Homo sapiens: one gene and its partners. The protein of the gene in region 6 purifies or fractionates together with the protein of the main gene of each other region. This does not show direct contact. Each region holds a gene or a part of one and is shown on either strand. Other genes may lie near its edges. The genes, in order: IPO9, NUP210, INF2, PRPF39, PCYOX1, SPNS2 and PASK.

Evidence for each region.
Region 1: the proteins of SPNS2 (region 6) and IPO9 purify together in Homo sapiens (affinity purification with mass spectrometry; one large-scale study listed by BioGRID and IntAct). This does not show direct contact.
Region 2: the proteins of SPNS2 (region 6) and NUP210 purify together in Homo sapiens (affinity purification with mass spectrometry; one large-scale study listed by BioGRID and IntAct). This does not show direct contact.
Region 3: the proteins of SPNS2 (region 6) and INF2 purify together in Homo sapiens (affinity purification with mass spectrometry; one large-scale study listed by BioGRID and IntAct). This does not show direct contact.
Region 4: the proteins of SPNS2 (region 6) and PRPF39 purify together in Homo sapiens (affinity purification with mass spectrometry; one large-scale study listed by BioGRID and IntAct). This does not show direct contact.
Region 5: the proteins of SPNS2 (region 6) and PCYOX1 purify together in Homo sapiens (affinity purification with mass spectrometry; one large-scale study listed by BioGRID and IntAct). This does not show direct contact.
Region 7: the proteins of SPNS2 (region 6) and PASK purify together in Homo sapiens (affinity purification with mass spectrometry; one large-scale study listed by BioGRID and IntAct). This does not show direct contact.

What each region holds. Positions count from the first base shown.
Region 1 is NC_000001.11:201,867,157-201,870,656, reverse strand, and holds part of IPO9 (importin-9), read right to left. Parts: intron 2,010-3,500; coding exon 1,861-2,009; intron 1,068-1,860; coding exon 939-1,067; intron 75-938; coding exon 1-74. UniProt on the Homo sapiens protein: Nuclear transport receptor that mediates nuclear import of proteins, such as histones, proteasome and actin. Serves as receptor for nuclear localization signals (NLS) in cargo substrates.
Region 2 is NC_000003.12:13,315,735-13,319,322, forward strand, and holds the end of NUP210 (nuclear pore membrane glycoprotein 210 precursor), read right to left. Parts: coding exon 3,496-3,588; intron 3,422-3,495; coding exon 3,338-3,421; intron 2,048-3,337; coding exon 1,947-2,047; 3' UTR 501-1,946; downstream 1-500. UniProt on the Homo sapiens protein: Nucleoporin essential for nuclear pore assembly and fusion, nuclear pore spacing, as well as structural integrity.
Region 3 is NC_000014.9:104,696,118-104,699,617, reverse strand, and holds part of INF2 (inverted formin-2), read right to left. Parts: intron 1-3,500.
Region 4 is NC_000014.9:45,111,616-45,115,115, reverse strand, and holds part of PRPF39 (pre-mRNA-processing factor 39), read right to left. Parts: intron 2,799-3,500; coding exon 2,614-2,798; intron 934-2,613; coding exon 859-933; intron 623-858; coding exon 502-622; intron 260-501; coding exon 203-259; 3' UTR 1-202. UniProt on the Homo sapiens protein: Involved in pre-mRNA splicing.
Region 5 is NC_000002.12:70,261,137-70,264,636, reverse strand, and holds part of PCYOX1 (prenylcysteine oxidase 1 precursor), read right to left. Parts: intron 3,426-3,500; coding exon 3,251-3,425; intron 1-3,250. UniProt on the Homo sapiens protein: Prenylcysteine oxidase that cleaves the thioether bond of prenyl-L-cysteines, such as farnesylcysteine and geranylgeranylcysteine. Only active against free prenylcysteines and not prenylcysteine residues within prenylated proteins or peptides.
Region 6 is NC_000017.11:4,501,881-4,505,380, reverse strand, and holds part of SPNS2 (sphingosine-1-phosphate transporter SPNS2), read right to left. Parts: intron 1-3,500.
Region 7 is NC_000002.12:241,105,599-241,108,535, reverse strand, and holds the end of PASK (PAS domain-containing serine/threonine-protein kinase), read left to right. Parts: exon of another isoform or gene 1-69; intron 70-235; coding exon 236-369; intron 370-1,036; coding exon 1,037-1,183; intron 1,184-1,812; coding exon 1,813-1,970; 3' UTR 1,971-2,437; downstream 2,438-2,937. UniProt on the Homo sapiens protein: Serine/threonine-protein kinase involved in energy homeostasis and protein translation. Phosphorylates EEF1A1, GYS1, PDX1 and RPS6.

The DNA of each region.
Region 1 (3,500 bases), on a different chromosome or scaffold from region 6:
CCCTGCTCATCATGCCACTGGGCTACTTGTTCCAGGGTCACTGACACATAGGCCCGCAAGCACTCTCCGCCATTCTGGGGAGACAGGGGTGGCAAGCAAGATTAGTAATCGAGGGACAGATGCCAGAAGGCCCTCAGTCTGTATAAACAAATGTTCCCAGAGGCCTATGCCTCATAAAAGCGGTGAGTCTATAATGTTTGTGGTGGGCTCATACCACTGGAGTTAAGACATTTACTGTTACAGACATAGACGTGCATTACATAATTCCCCCTTTACCTAATCAGCTATCTCACAAATGTGTATATATATTTTTTTAATCACAAGGGACAATGGCCAAGCAAAATGAATTTTAATCATAAAGGTCTACCTCTGGTACTAAAAAAATATGCTTACAATCTTGGAATAACTGGGGATACTGTAGGTCTTTATATAGGTCTTACACAAACCACTAGTTGCCTAGGGATTTCCAAGCTGATCAATATTCACTGGCAAGTTCCTATAACCTTTCTAATCAATCACAGTAGCAGACACCTGAAAAGGTAACCAATTCACCCAAGAAACAAAAAGAGAAAAAATATTCAGGCATGTCTCCCCTCTCTAGAGGCCCATCACTCTGCTGACTTTATTACTAGAAGAAATATGCAGAAAGACTTTCTTATGGCCCCAAGTCTAGATGTCTGTAACCTCTTTCACAGTAGCAATACCCAATACAGATGGGCAGGGTGCTTGGTATCCATATTTTTAAAAACTGTAACATGCTCCAAAGCACCAGAAATGCTTGGCTTTTGCAGACTGAACCCTTCCTGAATCTGCTAAGTAAATATGGAGTTGAGAATTCCGTATTTCAAAAGCATAAAACCATGTCAGATTTCTCAGCATAGTATAAGCCCATGGCTGGGGAGCTATCTTCCCTCTTCTACTCTCCATGTCTCAGATACCTGCATGGTGGCATTGTCATCTGTGTGAAGGGTACACTGTGCCACAGCAGGGAAAGCTTGGCAGATGAGAAGCTGGGAAAGGGGAGGCTTTGTATTTCGTACTACTGTTGTCAGGATATCAATGGCTGTCTGAAAGAGAGAAGAAAAAGAAAAGTCAGAATTGCCTCTGGGGTGGGGGTTGCCCAACAACCAAGATCCTTACTGGATGGGTATTACATAGCAACCCAGAGAAAGCTTATTAATGAAAGGCAAGTTTCCAAAATAAAAGGAATAATTAAATGGGTAGTACTCTCAGCCTTCTCATAATAGCTTACTAATTGATTAGCCATAGGGGTGGGCAGTAGTACATGGTAGTGGATTGGATAACCAGGTGACATACTTAGTGGCACTGTGTAAAGGTGGCACTCTGTTCAATTCACTGAGGGTACCTCTGGAACAAGAAGAGCCATTTTCTTTCTTTCTTTCTTTTTGAGGCAGTCTCGCTCTGTCACCCAGGCTGGAGTGCAGTGGCACGATCTCCACTCACTGCAACCTCTGCCTCCTGGGTTCAAGTGATTCTCCTGCCTCAGCCTCTTGAGTAGCTGGTACTGCAGATGCCTGCCACCATGCCCGGCTAATTTTTGTATTTTTAGTAGAGATAGGGTTTCACCACATTGGCCAGGCTGGTCTCGAACTCCTGACCTTGTGATCCACCCACCTCGGCCTCCCAAAGTGCTGCAATTATAGGCATGAGCCACCGCGCCAAGCCAAGCCATTTTCTTAAAGCTTCAGAGAATCACCCACTGTCCTTGCAGGCAAAAGAGCTCAGCAAAATCACCCCATGAATCTCTAACGCTATTAGGTTCTTGTCAGCTAGATGCATCTGTGGGTGGCACTTGTAGATCTCTCTCACACACACACACACACACACACGGCCACTTACCGCACAAAGCCCTGCAGGAATCTTGTCTGCTGGGGCCTGCATTATGCTGACCAGAGTGGGAATCAGCCTCATTTGCATTGGGCCCTGACAGGCTTCAATCTGGGACAGCTCCTTGAAGATGTCCTGAGCCAGTGAGGCGACGACGGGATCTGAAGTGGATAAGGCAACACGGAATCCCCCTGCCTGATGGTCTGCATCTGCTTCTCGCTTAATGATGCCTGTTGTTTGGCCCTAACCTAAGTTAACAACTTCTGCATTGATTACTTATCACATACCCGGGACCTAGTGGGGCCACATGAATAACCTGAAAGAACAGGAGAGATCCTAAATCTGCAAGAGGTACACTTTGTATGGCTTCATTAAAGTAGGGACTAGTCATTAACAGCTACTCATAAAACAAAATGTGGCTTTTTCTAGAGAAAAATCTTTAAAGTCTTTATTCTTGTGAAACCTACGTTATAAAACCAAATGCTTAAAAAAAAAAAAAAAGCCCAACTGATACTTTAAGAAGACATGAAAGCTGCAAAAATTGCCAAAACACTGGCTTTGATGCATGAGAGAAATCATACATATCTCCTATGGGGTAGCCACGGTAGACATGAAGAACTCTCAAAGCTACTTCTGGGGCAAAAGGCAAAACTCCTAAAAAGCAGAGCCTTATGAAGAAAGGGAACTTTAGCTCAATCTTCTTTATCTATAGAACAAAACATCCTCCTCTATTTAGTATGGAAAAATATAGGCAATGTGCATTAAAGTATACCTTAAAAGATCACTGCAGCATTGTTTGTAATAGAAAAAAATTGGGAATACCCTAGATGTCCATTAACAGAATGGGTAAATTATGATATACCCATTTTATGGAACATTAGTAATGGCTGAAAAGAATGAGATATATCCAAGAACACAATGTGGAAAGCTCCTCAGTACACATTTTTCAGTGAAAAAGCTATCAAATAACATGTTCAGTATATCACATTATATAAATAATCCTTATCCTGTACATCTTTCTGAGCTTCAATATTGGAGCTCTCTCTTTAAAAAAAGAATCCTTAATATTTTACTAGTAATAAGGTATTAATAAATACATTCACTACAGGAAAAAAAAAACTTAAAATGCAGAAAAGTAATAATGAAAACACCTGTAATTCCACTACCTAAACACTCAACATTTTGATGTATTTTTTTTTAAAACATACCTATCTATACATACATGCTTTTCTAAAAGAAAAATCAAAACTTGGGATCATATTCTATGGATTTTTTGGGAAAAGTATCTTTTCATTTATTATAATGTAAGCTCTTTCCCATGGTTTCAGATATTCCTTTTAAGCTTGATTTTTAATGGCTGCACAGTATTTCATTTTATGGATATAATTAACTAATGTCTTTTTATAATTTCCAAATTTTTACTACTGTAAAAAATATCTAGTGAATACCTTTGTTTATAAACTTTTCCATATATCTTTCTTTAGTATCTCCTTTTCTAAATTATAGTCCTAGCCCTTTTCTTTTAGGAGGCTTTTCATTTGCCCAATTTCCTATTCTATCATCAAAGTTCTGAATTATGTCTCTTGCTTATTAGCCCTTTATTTATTATCTTTATCCCTAAGTCCTTACTAGAGAGTAAGTGTTACAGAAAT
Region 2 (3,588 bases), on a different chromosome or scaffold from region 6:
AAAACAAACGAAAAACAAAAACAAAACAAAACAAAACAAAAAAACATTTCCAGGATGCAGGAATGCACATGTAAGCATGCACAAAGACACACAGAGAAACAGAGAACGAGAGTTCACTTTTGGCCAGACTTAAGAATTCTAGAGAAAAAACAATCTATATGATGTACTATATTTTTAGTGCTAAATGGTGCTAAAAGCCTTTTCTGGCAACCATTAGAGACAGAGAGTTGCTTGGTTAGCTTGGGAGCAGAAAGCTGAACTGTGTGGCATCACCTGGTTTTGTCAATGTGCCTTCTTGGGCACACTCACTTGCTGGCAAGATCTGGCTGCGTCCAGATGCACTTGCATTTGCCAACCTGAATGTGCTTGAAAATGATGCTCACCCTTTGGGGAGAATAAAGCTCAGACCTCCAGCTCTGCCAGGCCCCAGAGTATCATAGATGGGTAAAGGGAAGAAATCATCACCATCAGACAGAAATCTCAGCAACGATCACACCCTCTTAAAAAATCACATAGAACTTTATTAAATAAACCAGTAGAAAGGCTCCTATTTACATCCAGGTTGTCAGTTTAAGCTCAAGTAATATGCAAGGCACAATTCTTCCTTTCTCCAGCTTTAGAAAAATCAACCACATGGCCCAGCCCTGAAGGACTGAAGGGAGCTTGTGCGGGATCCCGTCATCCTGGACTCTCCACACAGCGTCCACGCATGGATGGCCATGGGCATGAGTCTCTGGATCTCCCTGAGGGTAGCCCAGCCTCGGCCTGGAGCACAGGGGCCTGTGATCTGAGAATCTCAGATCCAGAATCAGGAGCTGGGAAGAGAGGACTTTTCCAAGGGTCTCCTCCCCCAGGCCCTGGGGAGTCCCTTCTGGATGGGCAGGCCCTGGGCTGGCGGCCGCCCTCCATCATTGGCCCAGGCCGGGCTCTAGGGCCTGCTGGGAAGCTGTCTGGGGCCCTGCGCCTGATGAGCTGCCATGAAAGTGGCCGCCTCTCACACTGGCAGGCGGTGGCTCAGATCTGCTGAGGTTCTGGAGTGGCACAGGAACAGGAGGAGCAAATGACACTGGGTCTTTGTGCTGAGGCAGGACACAGCGGCTTTCCGAAACACACACACAGAAAATATGACTCCTGCTGCCATCTCAAGGACATTTTCCTAAGGACAGTCCTGGTGTCCTGATGGAGTGAAAGGGATCACACGTGGGATGTCCCAGCAGGGCCTAAGCCAAGTCCATCAGATGTCTCAACGGCTTATGAAACAAAAACAGAGGACTGAAGTCTGTTCACAGTGGCCCATGGTTGGGCAGCAGCCCTGGGTGAGCTCCTGTGTTCTCCAGCCTCTCGCTCACCCAGGGCTTGGCTATCCTGGCCTCCAGGTGCTGGTTCCTGAGGCTTCCCTTGCGGCAGTGGCGCAGATACAGGGACACTCATGTCCCATTGCTCCTCAGAAGTCCTAGCAGCAGCCAGACTAGGGGCAAAGTAAGTTTTCACAGGGGGAAAAACCCCACCAAAAACCCCCTAAAGTAACTGGACAATCCTTTCCCTGAGACCACTACAGTAACATCACCCACAGACAACTTCTAAAGAGCACTTCTAACTGCTCAAAGTCTTGAGAAGGGAAAGATTTTAGCAAGGCTAGGAAAATAAAAATGCAACAGCACATTGTCCAGAAACCCTAGACAACCATGCAAAAAGGAATGAGCCAAAAAGTCTTAGCTTTGTAAGACTTGAAAGGAAAAAAACACACATTTAAAACTCCTACATAAAATGAGCTAATGGGCAGAGCCGAAACTACAGCTCTGTGTGAAGAGACGGCAGTGAAGCTGGCCTGGGGCCGGGGCACTCATCTGGAGGGGCTTGTTCCAGTGTGAATGCAGCAGGGATGTTCCATCTTGGGGGTGCACGAGGCTCGGCTGAGACCCATCCTCCGGGAACCTTCACGCGGCCTAGTGGGAGGCATAGGCTGGGCTCCACAGCCCTGAGGGAGGGCTGGCTTTGCGAGCAGGAGGCAATGCATTGGGAGATGTGGGTGATGAGGCAGCGAAATCTAGGGTGGGAAGAGAGACGATGTTAGCAGCAGAGCCAGGGAAAGCGGCGCACTCTTCAGTTACAGCCAGCATTCAGCAGGCGCCTGCCTCACCCAGGACACTCTCACAGTGATGCCCCGAGGCCTCCCCGGCCAGCAGAGGGAAGTCCACGGGCACCTGCTGAGCTGGCCTCATTCACACAGAGAGGCCTGGGATGCCACCCTAACACCCAGGAGCGCAGAGCCTTCCGGGGAGAACGTGTCTCAAGTTTCAGGACCACAGCAGCATCTGTCCAGGGGGCATGAGGCAGGGAGGCCCCGTGCATCTGAATGCAATGCAGCCTCGGGCAAGAGCGCCACAGGAACAAAGACCCCGAGGGGAGCAGCGATTCTGCAGTGCTCCGGAGACCTTGCAGAGATCCAGGTGTGGCTCCCAAAACCCAGGGAGGAGCACGCTGAGAGAGGCAGCTAGAAAGGGCAGGCACCTGCTGCCAGAGCAGCTGCAGAAGGCAGCAGAGCCGCGAGGAGGCCGAGCACCCGTGGCCTCCCCTGGGTGCCGCTTTGCAGGTAGAGAAGTCGTCAGGCAGAAGACAAGGGCGTGTGGGCTCTCCTTACCCAGGAAAGTGCTTCTACCCACACAACTGGGTCTTCTTTCAAAAAAATTCAGGGACCCCCCTGAAGCCGGTCCATGGGCCCCCATGTCAGCAGACACGAGCTCGAGGACTCTTTGTGTAGGGGAGAGAACCCTCAAATGGGAATCAGGAGACATTAAAGGGCCTTCACGTACAGCAGTACAGGCTGGGCACTGCATTGTTTGAGAGAGAAACTACATTCACACAGTGAGGTGCTCCCTGGAGCTGTGCAGGGTCACCAGGGCTTCGGGGTCACCAGAGAGACAGTTAGACCATTGAAATAAATGACTTTGCCCATTCTTCTGGGAAATTTCTCATCAGAACTACCCAGAATCCCCATCTGTGAGTCAGCTCGTCCAACCCCAGCTTAGAGCCTTCTGAGGCAGCCTCAGCAATTGGGCATCCAGTCCTAGCATGCACTCCTGCCTAGACAGAGCTCCTTGCTGCCCATACCTCCACCCAGCATGGCTCTACCTGGGGAAAGCTCTTGCTGAACCAGGACTGGCAGCCCCTCTGCCCCGACCCTCCTGGCTCCCACATCTGTCCTCTGGGCCTCAGGCTCCTTTGGCCCAGGCAAGGGCCTGTTGAGACTTAGGGTTCAGGAGCCTCGACCCCTCCCCCAGGGCTCTTCTCTTTCTCAGCAGCTCTGCCTGGTTGTGCCTGCAGGGGGGCTACTCACAGTGGGGGCTGTGTCCAGGGCTGGCTCGAGGCGTGAGGGCTGCAGGCACAGCAAGATCCCGGGGCGTGCAGACAGTGTGGTAGGCTGCAAGAGCACAGGGTTGGTTAGAGCAGGTCGGGGCAGGGGAACAGACCCAGAGATACAGGCAGCCTCCTCACCTATGATCATGACCGCTGTCCCAGCCAACAGGGCGAAGAGCGTGAAGAACATGACCTGGTAGGAATCCAGGAAGTGCTGGAAGAGGCTGGCTC
Region 3 (3,500 bases), on a different chromosome or scaffold from region 6:
CCAGTGGCCGTCCACTCACCCAGATGCGCAAGACCTTCCGGCCACCTCTGCCCACCCACTCTGGGCCCTGTCCTGGGCTGCTCCTCACGCTCCCCTGGCTTCTCATCGCTGCTGACCGCTGAGCTGCCAGAGACAGCCGGGTCCCTCCCAGGCAGCCTCAGGTCCCCAACGCCCCTCCTGGTGGCAGTAGGGTTGCTCCCACCACCATGAAGAGCCAGGCAGCCGGGCCTCTGCATATATTCCCACCCGCCTTGGCTGTTGCTGCCTAAAGAGGCCCCAGAACTGACCCTCCTTTCCTCCCCCGCCTCCATTGGCCGGAGTCCCTGTCCCCTTGGCACAGGCTGAGTGGACGGAGTTATGAACTCTCCCAGGCCCGGCCCCTGGCATCCAGAGTGTCCTCTCCAGCCAAGAGCCCCGGGGGTCCCTCCATGCAAAAAATCCTGACCTTTTAGAGACAAGCAGTGCCGCCGAGAGCCACCGTGCCCCAGGCCCCAGGGTGTCCCTGGACACAGAAGATGCTCCCTGACCTGAGTACTGCCCCTCTTGGCACTGCCCAGCGCTCCTTGCCCTGTGCAAGCCCCTGAAAGACCCCAGTCAAGAGGATCCCCCTTGGTCAGTGGGGTGGAGCCACGGTGGGAGGAAACTGGCCCTCCTGCCCATCAGGTTCCTATACCCCCGTGCCTGGGTGCCTGGCTCTGTGTCTGAGCTGCCCCAGCTGGCCGTGTCCCACCGGGTGCTGTCTGGGGGCAGTGAGTGTAACAGGGTCTCGCTGGGCTGCGGCCCGGCATAGACAGGGCTCCGGCTGAGGCCCCGGAGGCTGAGGCCGGAGCTGCTCTCCTCCTTCTGTGGTGCTGCCAAGGCTGCCCGATCTCACCCAGGCCCCCCGTCAGGCTCTACACCGGAGAATGTTCCAACTGCTTTTCAGCATGAGGCTGAACCTGCAAACACACCACGGCCAGACCATATATGCAGCACTCTGACCCGCAATCTGGCCACTGGCCCCAAATGGCTGGGACCTGGGTAATAACTGACAGCTTCTGTGATTTTTGTCTCATCTCATAGGAGCCCAAATTCCAGCCAGCAGCCTCTCTCAGGGCATCCCCGAGCCTTCCCTGTGTCTATAAAAAGCTTTCTATGTATAGAGTGAATTATCCATATGAGAAAACCATGAGGCTTCCCACTCCCCCGCCCGCCTGTGAGTCTCTGCTAAACGCGGGTGGCGGTGGCCGACTCCCTGCTACAGCGAGCTCTGCAAAAACAGCCTTGCCTGTTCTCACTGGGGGGTGGTGTCCACTTCTGCAAGGATTCCAGAAGGAATCCACAGTTTACTGATCTCAGGGGCACGGGGCTATGGGGAACAATACGCTGGAAGGTGCCAGTGCCAACTGAGAAGGGAAGGGGGCGGGAGTCTCATTGCTGAGCTGTGTGCCCCTGGGCAGGCTACCCTTCCCCTCTGCTCTCCATCTGGAAAGTGGGTTGGCGGGGCCACCAGCGCAGGAATGTGTCCTCAGAGCTCCCCAGCCCCGGCTGTAGGGCGTGGCCACCTCCCCACAGGCACAGGAATTTGCGTTCTTCGCAATCTTTTCTACAGCCGGCACCAGCTCTGGCTGAGGCAGGGCAGGACCATCCAGGCTCTGCAGGGCCCAGTACCCATGGCTCAGGCCAGACCCCATGCCTTGGACAGCAAAAGGGTCAGGGCACCAAGAAGGGGCGTCCCATCCACCCCCCCCGGCAGTCCACCAGCACCAATGGAACTGCACAGGGCAGGGTCTTTTGCAGATGAAGACTCTGAGGTCTGAGGGGCTCACCCCACCCATGCTAGTGGGACATCACCATGGTTCTTCAGCACTTGCTTTTGTCAACCAATAGCCTGGGGCTTCCAGAGGACGGGGCCATGCCTCTCCCCTGACTCTAGCTCTGGCAGGCAGGGTCCCCCTCTGGGCCTGGGCCTGGCCAGCCTGGTGTGGTGATGCCAGCACCTCCATCCGAATGCCTACATGCTAGGGCAGCTGCACTGACTCTCGGGAAGCCACCGGGCCACCGCCCCGCCTAGCAGTCAACAGTCAAGCTGAGTGTGTGGTGTGGGTGGGGACAGGGCCATGCTGGCCTTCACTAGACCTGCAGCCATGTGCCTAGCCCCTGCGGTGCAGACAGAAAACCAGAGCCAGGGAGTGTGGGCTCCTGAGGCAGGCCCAGCACCGAGCTGTGGAGAGTAGCTGGGGGCTCCTGCATGGGCCCATGGTTCTGAGCGGCACACAGGCCAGGGTTAGGGTACCCAGACTTGAATCCCAGCACGCGAGGGACCTGAGCCAGCCACTGAAGCCCCCAGGCCTCGGCTCCCTCACTTGCCTCCCAGGAGCCAGGCGAGGAGGGCCTTCCACAGCACAGTGTGGGAGCTCCTATGCCCTCGGCCAGCACCAATGGGCCTGGAGGCCCCCGCTGTGACATGTTCTGAGTCTGCCTGGGACAGCCCCCTCCCCTGTGAAGTCCCCACTGGTAGGGAAGGGAGAGGTCTGCCTGGGTCCAGGCTCCCCACGAGGAACAGGCCAAGCCCTGAGCCTGGCAGCCCTGGGGTGGCAGGTACTGCCTACTGTGCCTGGGACCAAGGGGCTCTGGGGACCCTGAAGCAGTGGCGGGGGTAGGGCAGGCACTGGCTGGGCACATGAGCACCTGTGGGGGGCTGCTGCCTGGGAGTGGGCAGGCAGCTGTGGTGTCGCCCTTCTGGCACTGGCACAGGGCTGGGTGCTTCTGGGCCCTGAGCCAGCGTTGGTGGTGGGGGTGCAGGGAGGGAGCTTGTCTTCCACGGGGTGGGTGGGCAGAACGGCAGGAGAGGATTCCGGAACTAGGAGGCAGGGGCTGCCACACTGTATTTTTAGCTCCTCCGAGAGCCCCAATTTTTCCACTGCTTGGCAACCCATGGATCTCCAGGACTGCACGCGTTCCTGGCAGCACCCCGGGGTTCTGGGCAGCCCAGGCCCTGCAGGGCGGTGGAGGCACCTGGAGCTGAACCTGCCCTACCATGACCCCCATTCCCCTCCCTCACACTCAGACTCCCAGCTCCTTTGAGCCTCCAGCATGTGTCACCTTCCCCACCAGGCCAACAGCCCCTTGAGGGACCTCTACTGACCTGGTGGCTCACCAACTGCCGGCAAGGCCCAGGGAGGGTCTGTGCACAGGGGGCCTCAAGGCAGGTGAGGATGGGGGTCCACCCACTGCCACGTGTCCAGGGGCATGGGGCGCACTGGGCCTTGGTGAGGGCTGGCTGTGTCCTCACTGTCACCTGGCCCGTCTCACACCCAAGAAGCACTCCAGCCCTCATGCCACCTGCAGTCCCCAAGATCTGGATGGAGTGCAAGGCTCCTGCCTCCAAAGCCCTCCAAGATCTTGAACTCCGCTTGTTGTGCAAAGAGGGCCCCCGGGCCACTGTGAGGACCCACAGCAGGACAGAAGGGCCCCCTGGGAGCAGGTGGGCAGAAAGGCGCTCTCAGCAGCATCATGAT
Region 4 (3,500 bases), on a different chromosome or scaffold from region 6:
AATTTTATAAATGGTAGGAAACAGTATCTGTGGTAAGCTACTAATTGACATTTTCCCCCTATTACTAAACAAATCATGTTACACAGAAACAAGGAAGACAGGTTATCAAATACAACAAGCTTATACTGTTTACATCCCTCATTAAAAAAAATAATAATTTCATACTTTTCACACACTGCATTTGAAATTTACATTTTTCCCATCAGGTTGGAGGGGGAGGATAATATTGTCCATAATTCCAAGGATTCTGATAATTGTACTGAAAGGAAAAAGTAAGTATGTTAGCATATTAGAACTGTGGCAGAGTTCCATATGTAAAAGTATAATTAAAGCAGCTATGTTTAAGAAAACAAGCAAGTGTTCACTGCTAAAATTCTAGTACTTAACCACCAAAGAATGTATTACACAATTGGAACAAAAACTTTTTTTAAAAAAAAAGAAACTATCCTAATTTATGCTAATAACATCTATGAACAAAGAATTATAATTATGCAGACTCACTTGATACCACGCACTATAATTATATACAGCTTGGTTTGCCTGTAAATCACCATCAATCATCTGTGTAGATGATGAAGTTGTATCTTCTGTATGTGCTTTCTTTTCCTCTGGTTCTTCTGATCTATATAAAACGTCAGAATGGAAACTTTCAAAACTCCCACAGGTAAGAACTTTAACGAATAGATGAATGTTATCTGTATATTTGTTTTACTGAAGTTCTGAATCACTCAAGACTTTTTCAAATCATGAAAATAAAGTATGTAAATTACAACATAAAAGTAACACTTAAAAACATTTGTCTTTGAAGGCATTTCCATAATGAAGCACGCCTTCTTGACTTAGCAAAAAGTGACATACCCATTTTCTGCTTTCCTTTTTAAAGAATCCTGTTCTTTCAGGAGTGTTTGATGTTCATCATAAGCATTCAGAAGCCTGAAAGGAAAGAAAAAAATATCCTCTGGAATATACAAAAAACAAACTTTATTAAATATTTAAAGTTGTTTTTACTTAGGAAACTGCCTAAGAAAATTTCTAAGCGGCTCCTTTATTTTTAAAATTTCTACTACTAAAATCATAGTCCTGATACTCAGACACTCCATTCCCTATACTTATAATGGACTAAATGACACTTGTGTTGAATCTCCGATTTGTCTGCCTGTTTTTACCAAATTAAAATAATGTCATTTAACATCACTGGTCAAAATTCCAATAGCTTACTACTGTCAGCTACCTACTGCATGTGCTATCAATTCAGTCTAGCTTTCAATGCACAACACAGTCAAGATCACGCTTCCACTACTTCACAAAAACCTCCAATCAAGCAGATGTTACTTTTAGATGAGATTCAACTTGCTTCCGCCACTGTGTCCTCTGCTCAGTTTATCAGAATCCAGTAATAACTAAATGAAGCCCAACCTCCTCTATGAAGCATGACAAATCCATTCTGATCGAGAGACATCACAGCCCTCCTAGCAGTTATTTGCTACCTCATACACTTACTTCCTGTTAATCATATCATTCAACCAGACTAGAAGCTAGAATTACATATCTCATCTTTTGTGTACCTTCTTCAGTGTAAACATAAGACACTAAATACACAGCACACAAGCAGTTAAGAGCAGAAACTCTGAAGTAGGTTCAGTCCTCGCTCCACAATGTGATAATAGCTACATGACCTCAGAAAAAATGCCTAATCTCTGTTTAATCCTCTCATCTATTAAGAGAACAGAACCCTACACCCTCATTCTACTGCTATGAATTTTCTGCAAGATAGCTAATATAAAACATTTGGCATCATGCCAAGCACGCAAATATATACATTAATACATTAAAATACACTAATATAAACATTAGCTGTTATATTAGTTGCACTGAAATTTTACACAGCCATCAAAAATATATACACACATATACAAACACCCAGACACAACTAATTCTCAGTTTATCTACAGTGGTTTCAACAGAAATCTAAATGCGAATAATCATAAAAGGCACATGCCTAACAGGAACTGGTGTATTTGCTTACTACAATCAGATAAGACTGGAACTTCAGCAATGCTCTAGCCAATATTTGTACTCTTAGTAAATTTAATCTTAAACTTGTCCTTTTCCCAAATCCACTGGAGCATTCTCTTCAACCATCCTCAACTTTCGGCTTTTACAATGAAGGAAGATGAGGCCACTAGGCATGTTCTGTGGGACCATATCCATCCTCTTCTCCAATCTCAGAAAATAGCACTCCTACTGGAGATTAATCCCATCCATCTTTATTGACCTATATATTAAATATTTGGGTTTCAGGGTTCAATCCTTATCCCATTTCCCTTTTCACAGGATTGCTCCTTCCTGCCTTCTCTCATTCAGTCATGGTTTAAATTGTCATTCTAAAATTGGGAAAACAGTTTTGAAGGAAAGACAAACCTTATGCCTTCCTGTTAAGTACATATACATTTACAAAATTGAATTTACCCCCATATATATCTGAGGAAAAAGTAAACTAAGCGAACATTTTAAAATTTAACAATGTATTAATCTATACTAATCATCAAATCCCCATACAAAAATATCAATGCTCATTTATCATTCAAATAGGTAATATAACTAATATCTTACTTATTAACATCGGAACCAAAATCTTCAAGAAATTCCACTTTTCTCTGAGAAAATGTAATTCTCATTTTAATAGGTAATGAACCATGTACAGCTTTGTCAAAACAATTTAGGATATTTTCTTCATTTTGTTTGAGGTCACCACTATATTCCATTTCAAGTAAATTGAGGTATAACTTTGTGTTCTCCTGTGTAAAAAGCAGCATCAATGAATATTTCTAAAATATTTTTATTAGAGCACAGATATTTAAAATGCCTTAGTTTTTATGTCTCAATTTGAAAAAATATTGAAAATTGTATTAAAATACAACTCATGCTAAATGTTTTCAGCATATATCTAAAGGGGTGAAAAAATTCATTAACACACTGATGAATTTTTCAATCAGTTGATCATCCTAGTACCTCCTAAACAATGCAAATTGTTCAATGACAGTAAATTAAAACTCTATAGCCTATCTTGTATTTAGTATGACATGACCTACCATGACAATTAGAAAACAAAACATAAAAAAAAATCTCTATGCTTCAAATAATTTAAATCTTTACTACAACTATAGATAAACATCTTAACCGGGCGTGGTGGCTCATGCCTATAATCCCACCACTTTGGGAGGCCAAGGCAGGAGGATCACTTGAGGTCTGGAGTTTGAGACCAGCCTGGCCAACATGGTAAAACCCCATCTCTACTAAAAATACAAAAATTAACTGGCGTGGTGGTGCACACCTTTAATCCCAGCTACTTGGGAGCCTGAGGCAAGAGAATGGCTTGAACCCAGGAGGTGGAAGCTGCAGTGAGCTGAGATCACGCTACTGCACTCCAGCCTCAATGACAATGAAACTCTGTCTCAAAAAAAAAAAAAAAAAAAAAAAAAAAGCCCAGGTGCAGTGGC
Region 5 (3,500 bases), on a different chromosome or scaffold from region 6:
TGATTTCTTAGGCCAGGTGCGGTGGCTCATGCCTGTAATCGCAGCACTTTAGGAGGCCAAGGCGGGCAGATCAATTAAGGCCAGGAGTTTGAGACCAGCCTAGCCAACATGGTAAAACCCCATCTCTACTAAAAATAAAAAAATTATCTGGGTATGGTGGCACATGCCTGTAATCCCAGCTACTCAGGAGGCTGAGGCAGGAGAATCGCTTGGACTCAGGAGGCAGAGGTTGCAGTGAGCCGAGATTGCACCACTGCACTCCAGCCTGGGTGACAGAGTGAAACTCATCTCAAAAAAAAAAAAGTAATTTCTTAATTTCTCAAAGGGCAATTCTCTACATCTCAAGCAAGCCACAGATAAAAAAAAAAACAAGGCTGGGAACAGGAGCTCACAACCGTAATCCCAACACTTTGGGAGGCCCAGGTGAGTGGAACACTCGAGCCCAGGAATTCAAGACCAGCCTGGGCAACATGGCCAAACCTCATCTCTACAAAAAAAATACAAAAAATTAGCCAGATCTGATGGCACGTGCCTGTAGTCCCAGCTACACAGAGGCTAAGGTAGGCAGATCCCCTGAGCCCAGGAGGTCCAGGCTGCAGTGAGCCATGATCACACCACTGCACTCCAGCCTGGGTGACAGAGTGAGACCTGTATCAAAAAAAAAAAAAAAAAAAAGAGGGCCGGGCACAGTGGCTCACGCCTATAATCCCAACACTTTGGGAAGCCGAGACAGGCAGATCACAAGGTCAGGAGTTTGAGACCAGCCTGGCTAACACGGTGAAACCACATCTCTACTAAAAATACAAAAAATTAACCAGGCATGGTGGCATGTGCCTGTAGTCCCAGCTACTCAGGAGGCTGAGGCAGGAGAATCACTTGAACCTGGGAGGCAGATGTTGCAGTAAGCCGAGATCCCGCCACTGCACTCCAGCCTGGGCGACAAAACGAGACTCTATCTCAAAAAAAAAAAAGAAAAGAAAAGAAAAACAATACACACAAGCAGGGCTGATGCCATCAGAACTTGATCTGCCTGCTGAGTATGCAGCACCATGCCACCCACCTTCTATAAAGTGACTGGCCGTCTCTACGCAAATTCTATATATTTCCTTGGTTGTGTATTGCCTGTCTCTCCACTAGAATATATATTCTTTGAGGACAAGGACATGTTGTAGGTCCTATACTCTCAACATAGAACAATGCCTAGCACCTAACAGGTATTCAATATTGGGTGAATGAATGAATGGCTACTTAAAAACATTATGCACTGTAGATGGACTTAAGGTACCCACGGGAAAGGCATTTAAGGAACTGACCTAAGAATGATGTTGAGAAAGAAAGAAACCCCAAACTACCATGAGTTATAGAAACCAGAGCATATCCTGCTTAGCTTTCTTTTTTTTTTTTTTAGACAGTCTGGCTCTGTCCCCCAGGCTAGAGTGTAATGGCACGATCGTGGCTCACTGCAACCTCTGCCTCCCAGGTTCAAGTGATTCTCCTGCCTCAGGCTCACAAGTAGCTGGGATTACAGGCATGCACCACCACGCCGGCTAAATTTTTATATTTTTTGTAGAGACAGGGTTTTACCATGTTGGTCAGGCTGGTCTCAAACTCCTGACCTCAGGTGATCCACCAGCCTCAGCCTCCCAAAATTCTGGGATTAGAGGCATAAGCCACTGTGCCCAGCCCTGCTTAACTCATATTTGTCCTGTTCAATACCTGGTCATATGACATGTTTTGTTTTGTTTTGTTTTTCCCCTCAAGATGGAATCTTGTTCTGTCACCCAGGCTGGAGTGTAATGATGCGATCCTGGCCTCCAGTACCTAAAACTGTAAAGCAGCATAAAAATTAGCATGTGCTAGCCGGGCACAGTGGCTCATGCCTGCAATCCCAACACTTTGGGAGGCTGAGGCAGGCGGATCACGAGGTCAGGAGATCAAGACCATCCTGGCTAACACAGTGAAACCCCGTCTCTACTAAAAATACAAAAAATTAGCCAGGCACAGTGGCAGGCACCTGTAATCCCAGCTATTCGGGAGTCTGAGGCAGGAGAATCGCTTGAACCAGGGAGGCAGAGGTTGCAGTGAGCCGAGATGGTGCCACTGCACTCCAGCCCGGGCGACAGAGCAAAACTCCATCTCAAAAAAAAAAAAAAAAAAAATTAGCACATGCCGGCCAAGCTCGGTAGCTCACACCTGTAATCCCAGCACTTTGGGAGGCCGAGGCAGGTGGATCACCTGAGGTCAGGAGTTCGAGACCAGCCTGGCCAAGAGGGTGAAACCCCATCTCTACTAAAAATACAAAAATTAGCTGGGCGTGGTGGCAGGCATCTGTAATCCCAGCTACTCGGGAGCCTGAGGCAGGAGTATCGCTTGAACCCAAGAGGCAGAGGTTGCAGTGAGCCAATATCGAACCATTGCACTCCAGCCTAGGCAACAAGCGAAACTCCATCTCAAAAACAAAAAAACAAAAAAACTAAAAAACTAGAACATGCCAACAGCTTTAAAAATACAGATTGTACCTTTCAAAATTAGACTGGCTATTTTATGTTAGTCTTCCTGATTACCAAAGTGATACATATTCACACGCATTAAAAAAACTGTTTAAATATAGAAAAGCATAAGGACGAAAAAGAGGCACCTGAATTCTCACTACCCAAAACAGTGCTAGAATGTAAATTCTTGGAATATGGAACTTTTACTCTACTTCAGGCTGCTGGTTCACTGAAAACATGTCACTATTAAAGGCCATTTAAGTTTTCTGATCCTTTCTACAAGCTCTTGTACACATTATCTCAATTCATATACACAACACCAGCACAGCATAGAGATTAAGAGTGAAGACTCAAAGGCCAGACTGCCTGGGTGGCAACTCCAGCTATACCACTTACTATGTGGGTGAACTTGCCTTTTAAAACCTCTCTACACCGCCACCTTCTGCATCTGTTTAAAGAAGCTAAAAACAGTACCTACCAGAGTAAGTTGTCATAAGAATTCAAGGCATCTAACAGTATCTGGCAACACTAAAGAAGCATTTGCAAAATACACTTCAGAAGCAAAAATAAACCAACCTTTCAATATCCAAGCAAATAGTCTGCATAGTTTCTACAAAACATTTTGCCTAACAATGTTATAAACAGGCCTTGCTGTGAGGTAGAAAATGCTTACAAGAAATCATAATTCCTAAAGTTCATCAAGTTTAATTTAACCTAAATTAAAAGATCTTAGGTTAAATGGAAGGAAAAAAAATTACCTCATGAACTTGTCTAACACGTCCTCTACCCACATGTGCATACGGAGGGATTGAAATCCATAGCGCCAAACTAATTTAATCACGTTAATTATGAACCAGTTGCTCTCCTCAAATACCAGAGTCTCTCCATTATATATCCCCAGTAGGCCACCAGAGGCCTGAACAGCAGAGAGACCTGCAAAAACATAAAGCACAGCTAAGTCAGTGGTGTCTATGCTGATCAAATGAAAGAACGTAATCTGAGTGAATT
Region 6 (3,500 bases):
CCCTGATGTCAGCACAGGGGCCTGGCCCTTCACCTGAGCTGTCCAAACCTACCAGTGCCCTTTCAGCCCAGAAGGATGTGCTTTGGGTCAGGCAGGTATGAGTCAACCCAAGTCTCAGTCAACTGAGTCTGTGACTCAGTCAACAGAGCTCAAGCCTGGGGCAGTCTCCTATGCATGCGGGGGTCCCAGGTGTGACCATGGCTAGAGGGGGATGGTGACTCTCCATGGGGATAGGTGCTGTGATGGAGGCGGAGCAGAGCACAGTTCAAAACCGGGAGTTAGGCACTTGGTTCAACCCAGAGCACTGGAGACGGCATCCTGGAAAGAGGACACCGCTGAGACCCACCAGGGACAAGCGCAGTTGGCTACTGTAGCTCCCGGGAAGCAGATCTGGTTGTCCTGGGGAAAGGAGGTGCAGGCAGAGCCAGGGACCAGCAGACTGGAGTTCCTGAGACCAAGTGCACCACACTATCCTTGGGACCAAGACACTGACAACAGCAAGAGAGGGACAAAAATCATCTGTCATGGATTCAGGGATCAGAGAGAGTCAGAATTTGCCTCCAGTCACACAGTAAAGCTGGCGAAGGCTGGCAGAGCCAGGAACAGGAAGCTCAGCCCAGAAGACATTTGGAGCTTAAGAGGGAGCCCAGCCCCAGAAGCCTAGGGATCGGGCCAGTGTTCTCCTGGACTCCCTCACTCTCATCCCCCTTCTACCTTCAAGATTTCAGGCCCCCACAGGCAGAAACAAAAGCCACTTCCTATTGCAGAAGGTTCTGGGGAAGGGACAAGGAGCTCCTCCTCTGAGCAGCTCTGAACAGGGCAGCCTCCCTCTCAGAACAGGCTATCACCTGCAGACCTGCAGCCTTCCTGCCTCATCCACAAAATGAGAAACAGAGGCACAGGCCAGGCCCATCACCGGTCCAGGGCCCCAGACCAAGGTACTATGTTTCAAAGCACTTCCTCTGATGGATGACAGCACAGCGGAGGGGCTGGCAGAGCCTGCTGGAAGGTGCCTTGAAAAGGAAGCAGGAGCAAGGAAGTGGGCAGCAGGCAGTTAGTCACAAGGGCGCTGACATTCTAGACCACCTGGCGCTTCACCTGGGTGCTGAGCCTGCCAGTCAGACACTCTGGATGCCCTGCCCCTCACACCTCAGCTGGGGTTTCTCCACGGTGCAGATGTGGCAGTGGCCAGGACAAGGCCACCTAAGAGGGCAAGGCAGGGGCACTGTTTATCCTTAAGGTGGCCATCCTTATCTAAAGAGAGAGCCACAGAGCCACAAGACAGGGCCTGGCTTAGCCCCTACCCACCAGGTGACCCTGTAAAAGACCCTGGGCCTCAGTTTCCCCATCTTTCAATTCTGGATAGACTTAACAGGACAGACCAAAAAAAAAAAAAAAGCCAATAGGAGAGTGAGCCCCAGCCTGGCACCCCCTCCTCCTGCACCCAGCTCAGCTGCTCTGGGGAAGCCCCCAAGTCCCTCTCGGCTTGTGTTCCCAGCTGGGTCCCTATGCTCATCGCTCCTTCTGGGTTTGTGTTAGTGAGCAGTTGCCATGGATACCAGTCTCAGCTTCTTTGGCAGAAAAGGACTCCCCCAGGGCAAGGCTCTGCCTTTCCTCAACAGCCCCCACTCCACCCAACTCCAAGTGCCCAGGCTGCCCCAGGCTGGATCAAAGGGAAAGAAAATAGGTCTTGAGAAGAGAACAGGTACCCCACAGAAGTTGGGGAAGGATCTCAGTTCCCAAATAGTCATTCACCACCCATAAACAAGGCCAGGGCCACCTCCCTCTTGTGGGGCCTGGTTCCAGGAGCAAAATGCTGCCACCTACACCCTCAGCTCTGCTTCCATTTCACAGAGGTAAGAATGGCAGCCTGGGTGGCAGAGGTGGCTCTGGCACCAGGAAGCAGAGCTAGTTAGAGGGGGCGTGAGACCCCCGTCTGAGGGACTCCCTCCTTCTCCTGACCTTGCAGCTAGGAGTGGGCTCAGAATGCAGAGTGGGTGGCTGCTAGGGACCATAGGAGCAGGAGCCATGTGCCCTAGGGGAGCTCAAACTGCCTTGGCTCAATTAAACTGAAATTCATCTACCCAAAGGGCTCTTGCCTAAGCCAGCAGAGCCTCTGCGTTCCCAGGCCAGAAGCAAGGGTCATGCCCCTACCTCCACCTGGGGCTCCTGGGACTGGAGAGGATGCCGCTCTGGCTGGTGTGGCCCTGCTCCGCCCCCCGTGTGACCTTGGGTAAGTGTCTTTGTTCTCTGGATGGCTGTGTTCCCATCTGCGCAAGGAGGTGCAAGGAAGGATTTAGAAGAGGTTTCTGGGCTACCTCAATTTCATCCAATTGAAGCAACGCTCGGTAAGAAGAGCAAGCACAGGAGCCTGGCCCTCCTCACCCGCTCTGAGGCCTGCTGCCCTCAGGGGGTTCTCATGGGGCGGAGGAGAGGCCGTAATTAGCAGGTTCACCGGGTGGCGCTGGGGCAGAAGCTACTAGAGTTCCCAGGATGGAGACCAGCCCTGTGGAGAAGGGAGGGGCTTGCAAAGGTGTCCTGAAAGGACTGTCATAAACAGAACAAAAAACAGAACAACAACAACAAAAATCCCAGGAAAGGCATCGTGGCCAGCTTGAGCAGAGGCATGAAGGAGAAGGCAGCTGGCACTCGTGAAGCCCTCCTAGGAATCTGGCCCCGTCCCAGGTGCTCGAGATACAGTCTCATTTATCCCACGCAACCCGGGAGGCAGGCGGGAGGGGAATGATCACACAGAAGGCTCAGGTGATGTCTTCAAGGTCACACGGCTGGGAAGCTGAAGAGCCTTGGCTCGAACTCTGGCAACAAAGACTCTAGACCTGCACTGTCCACTCTAGTGGCCCCTGGCCACCGTGATATTGACATGTGCTGTGAATGGAAAATACACATACTGGGTTTCAAAGACTTAGTATGAAAAGGGAGGCAAAATATCCCATTAACAACATACATATGTGTGTGTGTGTATAATTTTTTTTTTTTTTTTGAGACAGAGCCTCACTCTGTCACCCAGGCTGGAGTACAGTGGCGCGATCTTGGCTCAATGCAACCTCCACCTCCTGGGTTCAAGCGATTATCCTGCCTCAGCCTCCCGAGTAGCTGGGACTACAGGTGTGCACCACCATGCTAGCTAATTTTTGTATTTACTTTAGTAGAGATGGGGGGTTTCACCATGTTGACCAGGCTGGTCTCGAACTTCCGACCTCAGGTGATCCACCCGCCTCGACCTCCCAAAGTGCTGGGTTTACAGGCGTGAGCCACCGCGCCCAGCCCTAACAACTTTTATATTGATTACATGTTGAAATATGTTGGATATATTGAGTTAAATAAAATATATTATGAATTAATCACACCTATTTCTTGTACTATTTTAGTCCGGCTACCAGAAAATTTGACAGGAATATGTGGCTTACATTATATTTCTTTTGGACAAAGCTGGTCTACACTATGAAAAAACAGATTTAAAGGACAGAGTTAAAGAAGGA
Region 7 (2,937 bases), on a different chromosome or scaffold from region 6:
TTAGCCTCGGAGCTGCCCGATGGCCTCTCCACTCCTGGCACATGGCCTGCTGGCTGGCCTGGGGCAGAAGTGCGTGGAAATGGAGGGCGTGTTTGAGGGGTGGAGTGACCCTCCTCTTGGGAAACCACTGCCTGGCCTGTGTGCTGGTCGGGAAGGGCCATGGTGCTTCCCATGGGCGGGCTTGGCAAGCCTGCGCTGAGTGCCGTGGCGTCCTGATGCCTCCTCCTCCTCACAGCTACAGAGGGCCGGAGCTGGAGATGTGGTCTCTGGGAGTCACTCTGTACACGCTGGTCTTTGAGGAGAACCCCTTCTGTGAGCTGGAGGAGACCGTGGAGGCTGCCATACACCCGCCATACCTGGTGTCCAAAGGTGAGCGTGAGCTGCAAGTGGTAGACAGTCGACACTGTCCTTAGAGACCAGCCACTTTTTTTTCCCATTTCCTCATTCCTCAGTGTATCTCTGTCCATATCAACAGTCTCATTTGTTTCTTTTCTATTCATCAAATAATTTGCATATGACTTTAAAACATCTTGATAATTTAGTTTTTGTTAATGTTCCTCTTTGGATCTTAGAGGCCCTCTTGTGAGAAACACACTTGCAGTCAGGACAGGGAGGCTCCAAGTGGCCCTGTTGACTTGGTGCCTACATGGTTAAAGGAACTGGGGCCCGAATCCAGATGCAAGGCTGGGGGCTTCTCTCAGCTTGTGCTGGCATCCCCTCACCTGTCATGTTAACCCTGCGTTATTCACAGCTCTGCATTGCCAGAGCCCCTGAGAATAGAGCAGTTAGGAACCTCTGCACCACCTGGATTTTGGTTGAGTGGGATGGCATCTTGAACTCCAAGCTTTCATTTCAGAGGCAATGAATGTTTCCTGCAGCTTCTGTCCAAGCACAGCTGGGCCCTGCACTAGAGGTTCCTGGGCCGCCACCTGCCCAGTCAGAGGCTCTGCGGGGGGGTGGTGAGCACCCAGGAATCTGAGATGTGCTCCACTTCATCCCAATCTGGACCTACCATCTGTGTTCTTTGTGTCCCCAGAACTCATGAGCCTTGTGTCTGGGCTGCTGCAGCCAGTCCCTGAGAGACGCACCACCTTGGAGAAGCTGGTGACAGACCCGTGGGTAACACAGCCTGTGAATCTTGCTGACTATACATGGGAAGAGGTGTTTCGAGTAAACAAGCCAGGTGAGGCTTCTCAGCATCCCTCCACCCCACATGACTTCACTTGGAATAACGAGGTCCCCAGGCTGCCTTCCTAGGTCAAAAGGAGGAAAAGGAGGCTCTCTCCCCCATGCTGTCTTGGACACAAATGTCAGGGCCTATAGCTGACCTGTCACCTGTGAGAGGGGGTTTGATTCTGTCCCGAGGCCTCTGGACACCACTGGGGTTCAGGGTGTGGCTTTGGACCTTGGAGGGTGGGCAGGTGTCATGGGAGCTCCTGGCAGAAGGGGTCGGAACCCTCAAAGATGGTTTGAGGAATGCAGCTGGTGATGGTCTGACTGGGCCGAAGGGGAGGATGAGGCCACAGATGCTGAGAGTGATTCTCTAGCAGCCGGCGGGGCCGAGGGCTCTTCAGACAAGGCTCTGGCCACAGAGCCAAAACCACTGCTCAGAGCATTTGGACCAAGCTGCGGTTGATGGCCCTGGGCTTAGATCCCCACCTTGGCAGGATCTGTACTTCCGGGACATTGCCAGTTGGATTTCTGAGGGCCTCACCTTAGGCTTTTGTTCTAGGACTTCTTCAAGTGAGAAGCAAAGTATTTTAGAACCTTAAGTTGTTAGCACGTGATACAGTTACCTTCTTGTTTCTTCAGAAAGTGGAGTTCTGTCCGCTGCGAGCCTGGAGATGGGGAACAGGAGCCTGAGTGATGTGGCCCAGGCTCAGGAGCTTTGTGGGGGCCCCGTTCCAGGCGAGGCTCCTAATGGCCAAGGCTGTTTGCATCCCGGGGATCCCCGTCTGCTGACCAGCTAAACACCAATTTCTTCCTGCTTTTCTCCACTTGGTTTGGAAAATCACACAGTTTTCAGGCTCCATCTGTTTGGAGAAAATACATTCTGAAGCATCCCCAATTCACCTTCTAAAAACTCATGTGCAGGTTTGATAAACACCAGAACAGAAGACAGTGATGCTGTATTATTTTAGATTTATTACATAGATTTGGAATTCACTTTTTTCATGACCTAGAAAAAAACATTCCAGTGTTCAACTGTTTTATATTATTAAAGGGCTTTTAATTTGTGAACTTCTGAAGGCATGAGTGTTTTCTCTTTCTACTTTTGTATATGTGCATGTTTTGTTTCCTCTGACTTGGTATATGCTCATCTGAGTGACGGATATGTGAAATTTGTAGAACTGGTTAGTCAAATGGCCAGACTATTTCATTAATTTATTTCCTCAAATGCTTTTCAAATTAAAGCACCTTTGTTAGTAAACAGTTATCCTGACTTGGATGTTGTGAACTGTTCCCGTGTGCTAAGTGTGAGAAATACCTGGTTTCCTCATTTTTCCATGTGTGCACCCCACTTGCCACAGTTGGAGAGAAGTCTAGCCTTGGCCATTCTGGGGTTCCTTTTACAAGCAGGCCCTGCCAGGGGTGGGCCTAGGGCTCTGAAGCTTGCTCCATCTGGTAAGACGGGGGAGGGTGGCTTCCTCAGGGACCTCCCTTCTGTCTGTAGCAAGACTCTGCTGTCAAACACGTGGCTGGCTCACTGCCAGCAGTCCCCAAATATCCCATGGCCAGCCAGCTCCCACCTCTGTCCACATGAGGGGCTTCCTGGCCCAGCCCCCACCTCTGGTCTGTGTGAGGGGCTCCAGCCCTGTATTCCTCCGAGCTGCTCAGGTTCCAGGGTGTTTGTCAGATACTCAACTGGCTGCTTCCCTCCCTTAGACTCCAGTCCATCCCCCTCAGACAGACTTGGCTAGGTCAAGTACTTAGGAT